2 linked regions of the Homo sapiens genome follow. The protein of the gene in region 2 purifies or fractionates together with the protein of the main gene of each other region. This does not show direct contact. Each region holds a gene or a part of one and is shown on either strand. Other genes may lie near its edges.

Region 1 (3,825 bases), on a different chromosome or scaffold from region 2:
GATAAAGAAGCCACAGCTAAATACAACAATTTTCTTACCAGGTCTTGCTGGTTGCTAGAGAACCAGATGGTGATCCATAGGGGTGAGAATGAAGAATAACATTCTCATTAAGAAGAAAAACAGAAGAACTGGTGTTCTTCCAAACTGGAAGTCCCTTAAAATGTCCTAAATCAGTATACTTTCTCCAACGTGCCCTCTCTCTATAGGGAATTAAGAGTAAGGAGAACAGGCAAAGTGTGTTTCTTAAGTATAAAAAGAAGTTGTTTTAAATATGGATTTTTTTTCCCAGCTCTGAAAGCATCTCTCTGTTGTTAAAAAGCAATTTAAAACATCCTTAAATAATTTGTTATAAAATATATCTCATGATATTCTTTGTAGCTAAAAGTTTAATAAACATACTTTCTTTCACAGAGGTTCTTTATTCACAAATGCTACCTGTTAAAAATATATTCCTTATGCGACTACTCATTTCCATAGTTATCAACTGTGATATCAATGACTATGAGATTTGACAGAAAAGATACAACACGTAACTTTTTTCAAAAATATGTTATTTAAAACACTAAAATAATTTATAAAATAGCATTCAAGTGATGCCACAGAACAAAACACTCCTATTCTATAACCATGTGTGAAGACTGTGAAATTAAGTGACTGGTCTCCCAAAGCAGTATAACCTAGAGAGCTGATTATAGAGAAAACAAATCATGAAGAATTCCAATAGTTATAAAATTTTTCATTTTGGATAATATCTTCTTACCATCTTTGCAGGTTTTTCCATTCTCCAGGAGTTTGACCCCAGTGGGGCAAGCACACTGATAAAAAGGCTTGACTGGAGACATCAAACACAAATGGGAACAACCCCCATTGTCAATTCCACATGGATTTGTGGCTGTCAAATATAAATCACATTGATTAATATCAATGATTACTAAGTACACAAAGGTTAACAACCATAACATGAACAACTGTGATAAGCCAAAATTATTACCAAATGTCATGCAGGTGCTTGACTATCAAACCATCTGCAAAGACAGGAATTAATCAGTGTGAATTTACTTAGTATTTTGTAACCAAAGAGGAATACACAAGAAGTAAAGCAGGAGATCCCTGCCCTAAAAGAGGTTACAATTTAGTCAGTTAAACAAAATTAACAAAAAGCAAAACTAAAAACAAACAAACAAACAAACAAAACCAATAAAACTAAGTGCTATTTTGCACATTATAGACAATAAGTACAGAGTCAAATGGGAAAAAAACCGCTGAGGTTTAAAGAATTGAAGAAGAGCTTTGTGGAGTATACAGCACGGGAGCCTTCAAGGATAGGAAGGATAGATAAGAGGACATTTCAAGTATGGTAAAGCTATCTGAATAAAACTTTGGGGGCTATAAACTGGGTAAGATATTAAGGTGAACAGTATAACTGGAGGTTAAGGTTTCTACTGACTAATAGGAACTAAAGCTGAATGAATACAAAGAATGGGAATAGATTAAAGTGAAGGACACTGAAAGCCAAGAAAAGTAATTATGTTGAAAAGTCATGCCTTGGGAAGATTAACATAGAAGGGATAAGCAGAAAAAAGGGGAAAATGAAAATCAGAGAAAACTAATTAGCAAACTTTGGAAATTATGGAAAGGGATATGTCCAAACAATACTCATAGAAAAAAATCAACATAAGATGGAGACCAATGGAACATGAAAGATAAAAGTAACCAACATGAAAGATAACTGCAAATTCTCAAATTAGTAAAACATAAAGGACCAACAATGCCATTTAAAAAGAAAAACAAGAGGCCAGGCACGGTGGCTCGTGACTATAATCCCAGCACTTTGGGAGGCCTAGGTGCGTGGATCACTTGAGCCCAGGAGTTTGAGACCAGCCTGGGTCACCAACATGGTGAGACCCTACCTCTATAAAAAATACTAAAATTAGCCAGGTGTGGTGGCATATGCCTGTAGTCCCAGCTACTAGGGAGGCTGAGGTGGAAAGATCACTTGAGCCTGGAAGTTCGAGGCTGCAGGGAGCCGTGATCACATAAACGCACAACAGAGCAAGACTCTATCTCAAAAAACAAACAAAAAACAGGGAAAATTCTCTTTTGAGGGCTATGAAGAATAAAAAAATTCATACAAGTGACTGAACATTTTCTTTTGTACAGAAGAGTAACACATACACTTAAAAACATTTTTATGGGCTCATGATCATCAGATTCCAACATAACACTTTCAATATTTGATTATCTCCCCCTAAATGGAGAGCTAATATAAAGCAACATATGTTGCAAAATCTCTTCATTTTTGGCTATGTAATAAAATCTGAAATACACTCAGACAGATGCCAGACATTTATTTACACAAAAGTGCCAAACCCTTAACATTCTCGTATTCCTTTTAAACCTAATTCCAGTCCTCTCTTACAAGTTCTCAGCAGTCATAGCCCGAGTCATTGTAAAGGCTGACCAAACACAGAACCAAAACTAAGGAAAACAAGGTGGGAGGGGTACACAGAAAAGTTTAAGTAGGTATTTTATTTAGCAAGCTGAGGTACTTAAATTCAAATATATTCTAGATTAACAGAGTTTTCATTTAAAAAGAAGAGGCGTTTTTGTGTGTGTGTGTGTTTTTTGTTTTTTTTTTTTTTGAGACATAATTTCTTTCTTGTTGCCCAGGCTGAAAGTGCAATGGCGTGATCTTGGCTCACTGCAACCTCTGCCTCCCGGGTTCAAGCGATTCTCCAGCCTCAGCCTCCCAAGTAGCTGGGATTATAAGCACACGCCACCACGCCTGGCTAATATTTTTGTTATTTTAGTAGAGACGGGGTTTCACCATGTTGGCCAGGCTGGTCTCAAACTCCTGACCTCAAGTGATCCACCTGCCTTGGCCTCCCAAAGTGTGGGATTACAGGCATGAGCCACCGCGCCTGGCCCAAGAGTTTGTTTTTTAAACACACTCACATCAACACATTCAACTACATACTGAAAGAAATAATATGAACAAAAAAACTCATTTGTGTATAAGCCTAGCATATAAGCTATCTCAATTTTTAAATTATCTCTCTCTTCTCCACCTCTAAAAGCGCTGACTCAAAAAGGCTGAGGTGGTCTGTAGTGACAGGCTACAAAATGGTCTAGGCTATTGCCTAACCTGAATTATACTTTTACATTTTCCCTTTTTTTTGAGCAAAGTCTCGCTCTGTTGCCCAGGCTGGAGTGCAGTGGCACAATCTCGGCTCACTGCAATCTCCACCTTCCGGGTTCAAGTGACACTCCTGCCTCAGCCTCCCAAGCGGCTGGGACTACAGGTGCACACTACCACACCCCATTAATTTTTGTATTTTTTAGTAGAGACAGGGTTTCACCAGGTTGGCCAGGCTGGTCTCAAACTCCTGACCTCATATGATCTGCCTGCTTCAGTCTCCCAAAGTGCTGGGATTTTAACTTTTTTTTTTTTTTTTTTGAGACACAGTCTTTCTCTGTCTCCCAGGCTGGAGTGCAGTGGCGCAATCTCAGCTCACTGCAACCTCGGCCTCCCGAGTTCAAGTGATTCTCTTGCCTCAGCCTCCCAAGTAGGATTTTAACTCTTTTTTATTCCCGCCAACTATCTTTGGATATGCCCTCCCTCCTCCTGATCCTCACTAAAGCCAGACATTAGAGTGCTACAAAGCTGTTCCAACTTGCAATTTAAAAATCAAGGATCACTTACCATTTGGCTGCCTCTGTTGGCTGAAGGCATGTATATCCATGGGAGAGAAGATGTCAGAATGGATTTCACGCAGACCCTCACCAGTATACTTGTTGCAAGCCAAAATGGAGTGTGTGCTCCAG
Region 2 (3,825 bases):
AAAAAAACTGAAGCAATGCCTAGCAAAGTACTAAGGCAGTCAGCACTTAACTAACCAGTGTTCAATCACTAGAGTAATAAATACCCATTTTCTTTTTTCCGAATTAACATTCTTATCATTTCAACATTTTCTCAATGAGCCTAGCAAGAAAGCAAGTCAATTTTTCTAATAATTTGAAAGCATGATAAATGTAGTAGCTATATTAGTGGCCAATATGTTTCTTTACAGCATCTTGTGTTTACATTCTCTAATTTCCACTTTATCTTATCCTCCTTGAATGAATATTCCTAGACTGACCTTAAACCCATTATATCTACCAGGGAGCCAGTGCTACTGACCTCTTCTGCTTGGGTGTGACATAAGGGGAAAAGAACCAGTTAAGATACTTTCAAAGACAGGATCTGGTACATTTTTGTCTAGCTCAGTAGGATCTTCCTTTTCCCACCAGGGCACAACTCCAGTGATACCACATGCTCCACCTGATTCCTTTTCGTAGAACCAGTCACTCTGTTCATCATCACCTGTGCAAATACAAGAAACCCCCCCCCACCAAAGACTCAGTTTTATCATCCAGTTACACAATTAGTCTTGTCAGGTAATAAAAATACAAGATGGCAGTTAAATTTGAATTTGAGATCAATGACTAACTTTTAATATAAGTATTATATACTTGCACTAAATTTTTGGTGGAAATATGTCTAAGTACTGCATGGGACATACCTGTACTAAAAAATTATGTGTTATTTACCTACAATTTAAATGTAATTGGGGATCCTATGTTTTATTTGACAACTGCATATACAATCTATAAGGAAAACTTTTTATTTTATACCACAGCTTCACTTAAGAAATGTTATCTTAAGACTCTAAGAACTGCCAGCAACAAAAACACAAAATATTATGTTTTAGAACCAATTTTAAAATGTGAAAAACAATAATAAACTGGTTAATCCTTTGGCAAAAACTATTAGAAAATCCATTTAAGTTACTACCCCTTCCACGTTAAGAAAAAACAAACCTTAATCTGCTCCTGGGAATTAAAAAGTATTAAAACTGTGGAACCCTTTCTTTGCAGCAGATATAGGTATATAATTAGCTTAATTTCATGATTTGTATGGAGTGTAAAAGGGGAAACAATCATGAACAGATGTGACTAAATGAAATTAATCCAATTAAGCTCATTAAGAAATAGTTTTGAAAAAGTTGATTTTAAATGAAAAGTGACAATACCTTAGAGTTTATGAAGAAACTATATTAAATAATCGAGATGTTTTTGCCCAACAAAACATTTTTTGTCTGTGAGACAAAAACACAGAAGACAGATGGCTTTTAAAAGAAAGAGACACAGGCCAGTCATGGTGGCTCATGTGTGTAATCCCAGTGCTTTGAGAGGCCAAAGTGGGAGGATCATTTGAGGTTAGGAGTTCCAGACCAACCTGGGCAAGAAAGCGAGACCCTGTCTCTACAAAAAGATTAAAAATTAGCCGGGCATGATGACATGCACCTGTAGTCCTAGCTACTCGGGAGTCTGAGGCAGGAGGATCCCTTGAGCCCAGCAGTTTGGGGTTACAGTGAGCTATGATTGCACCACCAGCCCTCCAGCCTGGACCACAGGGCGAGACCTTGTGTTAAAAAAAAAAGATAGAGAAAAGAAAAGAAAAACAGAAAGAAACAAACAGCATTTTTAAGATGATCTGCGATTCATTAAAGTCTCCTTCCCTTGATTATGAGAAGCCACCACTAATTCTGGTTTCTAAGAGGGTCGTTGTAATTGTCATAAACTTTTCCCTTTACAGAAAGATATTTCTGATTTCTAAAATCTCTTACAACAGACATCTTTAAAGGAAAACTAAAAATACTCTTAAGCTTCAGTTGAAAATTATTTTATGAGAAATAGCTATATTTCAACTAAGTCACAATGGAAAATTAAAGGCATTTCAAAAATTAGAGTCATCAGCTCGTTTCTACTGGGGAATTAATTAAAAAAATTTTTCAAAACACACAATTAACAGCACTTAGATATCAGGACTTTTACTGAGCTTTACATTAAAATTACACAGATCAGGTTTAAGCATAAGAAAAAACAGGGCCTCACTTGAAACTGACTACCATATATCTGAATTCCAACACTATTACAGAAAAATAAAGTTATTTTATTTTTGATGTAATACACAACTTTATTCTTCAATAGGGAAATCAAATAGTCATTGATTAAGAACTTGCTCTGAAATCAGACAGACCAATTAGAATTCTAGTGTCTGTAACATCAGGAAAGTTACTTCAACTCTATTAGAGTCAGTTTCTTCATTTTAAAAACTTGGGAATCTCAAAGGGATTTTAAGAATTAATTAAAAACTTAAATGCAAGGAAAACACTTAGCAACGTGAAACATAGTAAGTTCACAATAAATGCTGGCATATCATTCTAAGCCTTTCCATACTTATCAAAGATTGACAGGCTTGTCAAAGTTTTTTTTTACTTTTTTTCATTTCATTTTATTTCATAACCAATATCAGCATTTATAATACAATCCTGAGAAAAGATCTGTATTTTAATGAGAATTTAAGTATATTATCAGGATGGTTACCCTTGCATTTAGCCCCAGCATTCTAACATATTTCAGCAAAGTATCAACTTTAAAGTCCATGGTCTTTCAAACAGTTATGTACCTATTCATTTAGGACAAATAGTTTACAAGCAGGCAAAAAAGAATGATCACTTATGTTTTTTGTACTGCCAAAAGGATGAACAGACTAAGAAAAAAAGTATAGGAGGCTACTTTGTCCTTTTCTTATAACATCATTAACTAAATTTATAATTTAAAATTTATATTAGTGTTTTTCACTTGGAACTTACTGTCTTCCTCTAATGTATTCTTAAGAAAGGAAGAAAACATTTGTGATAGGTATCTGTATGTATGATTTGTATGGAGCGTAAAAGGGAAACAATCATGAGCAGGTGTGACTAAATGAAATTAATCCTATTAAGGATTAATCCTGCTCCCTTATTAAGGTTTTTTTAAATTTTTCATAGCTTCAAAATACTGCCATGTTACAGACTGAAGCTTCTGGAAGTTTCAAAGATGGAAAACATATAAGTTGCAAGACATTTCTGTTTAATGGTTTACAATATTGAATTCATAAAAATCATCTAATTACTTACAAACTGGATAGAATGAATAAATGTCACAGCTGAATAAAAATGACAAATGACTTGGAAATCCACCTTTATGAATGCTTAAACAGTTTTAAGTACATCTGGAATTAGAGAATGAGAACCAGTTTCTTTCAAACTTGCTAAAAGAGAGAAAATCAAAAAGGTACCTAGAGCTTTCTCAAACAAGATAATCCTTCCTTAATATTATTAGCTCCACATACTAGCTTTTGGAGATAATCAATTACTTAGGTCATGAAGACAGGACACCCTCCATAGCATATAAAAAACCAGCTACGATACTAAATCCTAGTTCACTAAGTAATATGTGTAAGGTAAATGGATTGCAGTCATCAACTTATGAAATAACCAGTAATAAGCTCCACTTTAGAATGAAGAAGTTTTTCCAAAGAGAGAAAAAAATATCATTTCAGTACCTTGTCTTCCCTCATCATTGGTAAACAATCCAGCATCAGTGCTGCTGAGACTGCTGGAATCACTGTAATAAGGAAAAAGAAAGAAACAGATCAAAAGAACAATTGATCTCTCAGTCGTAAAATTTTAAAGAGACATGGCAGCTCAGAGATGGAACTTAAGCCTGACAAAGATCTGAAAGAAAATAAGATGATTTTTTTTTTAATCAAACTGCTAATATCCTGGTTCCATTCACTA

What was found.
Region 1: the proteins of GPATCH2 (region 2) and LRP6 purify together in Homo sapiens (affinity purification with mass spectrometry; one large-scale study listed by BioGRID and IntAct). This does not show direct contact.

The regions. Positions count from the first base shown.
Region 1 is NC_000012.12:12,183,220-12,187,044, forward strand, and holds part of LRP6 (low-density lipoprotein receptor-related protein 6 isoform b precursor), read right to left. Parts: coding exon 3,704-3,825; intron 893-3,703; coding exon 761-892; intron 1-760. UniProt on the Homo sapiens protein: Component of the Wnt-Fzd-LRP5-LRP6 complex that triggers beta-catenin signaling through inducing aggregation of receptor-ligand complexes into ribosome-sized signalosomes.
Region 2 is NC_000001.11:217,610,551-217,614,375, forward strand, and holds part of GPATCH2 (G patch domain-containing protein 2), read right to left. Parts: intron 3,653-3,825; coding exon 3,591-3,652; intron 522-3,590; coding exon 339-521; intron 1-338. UniProt on the Homo sapiens protein: Enhances the ATPase activity of DHX15 in vitro.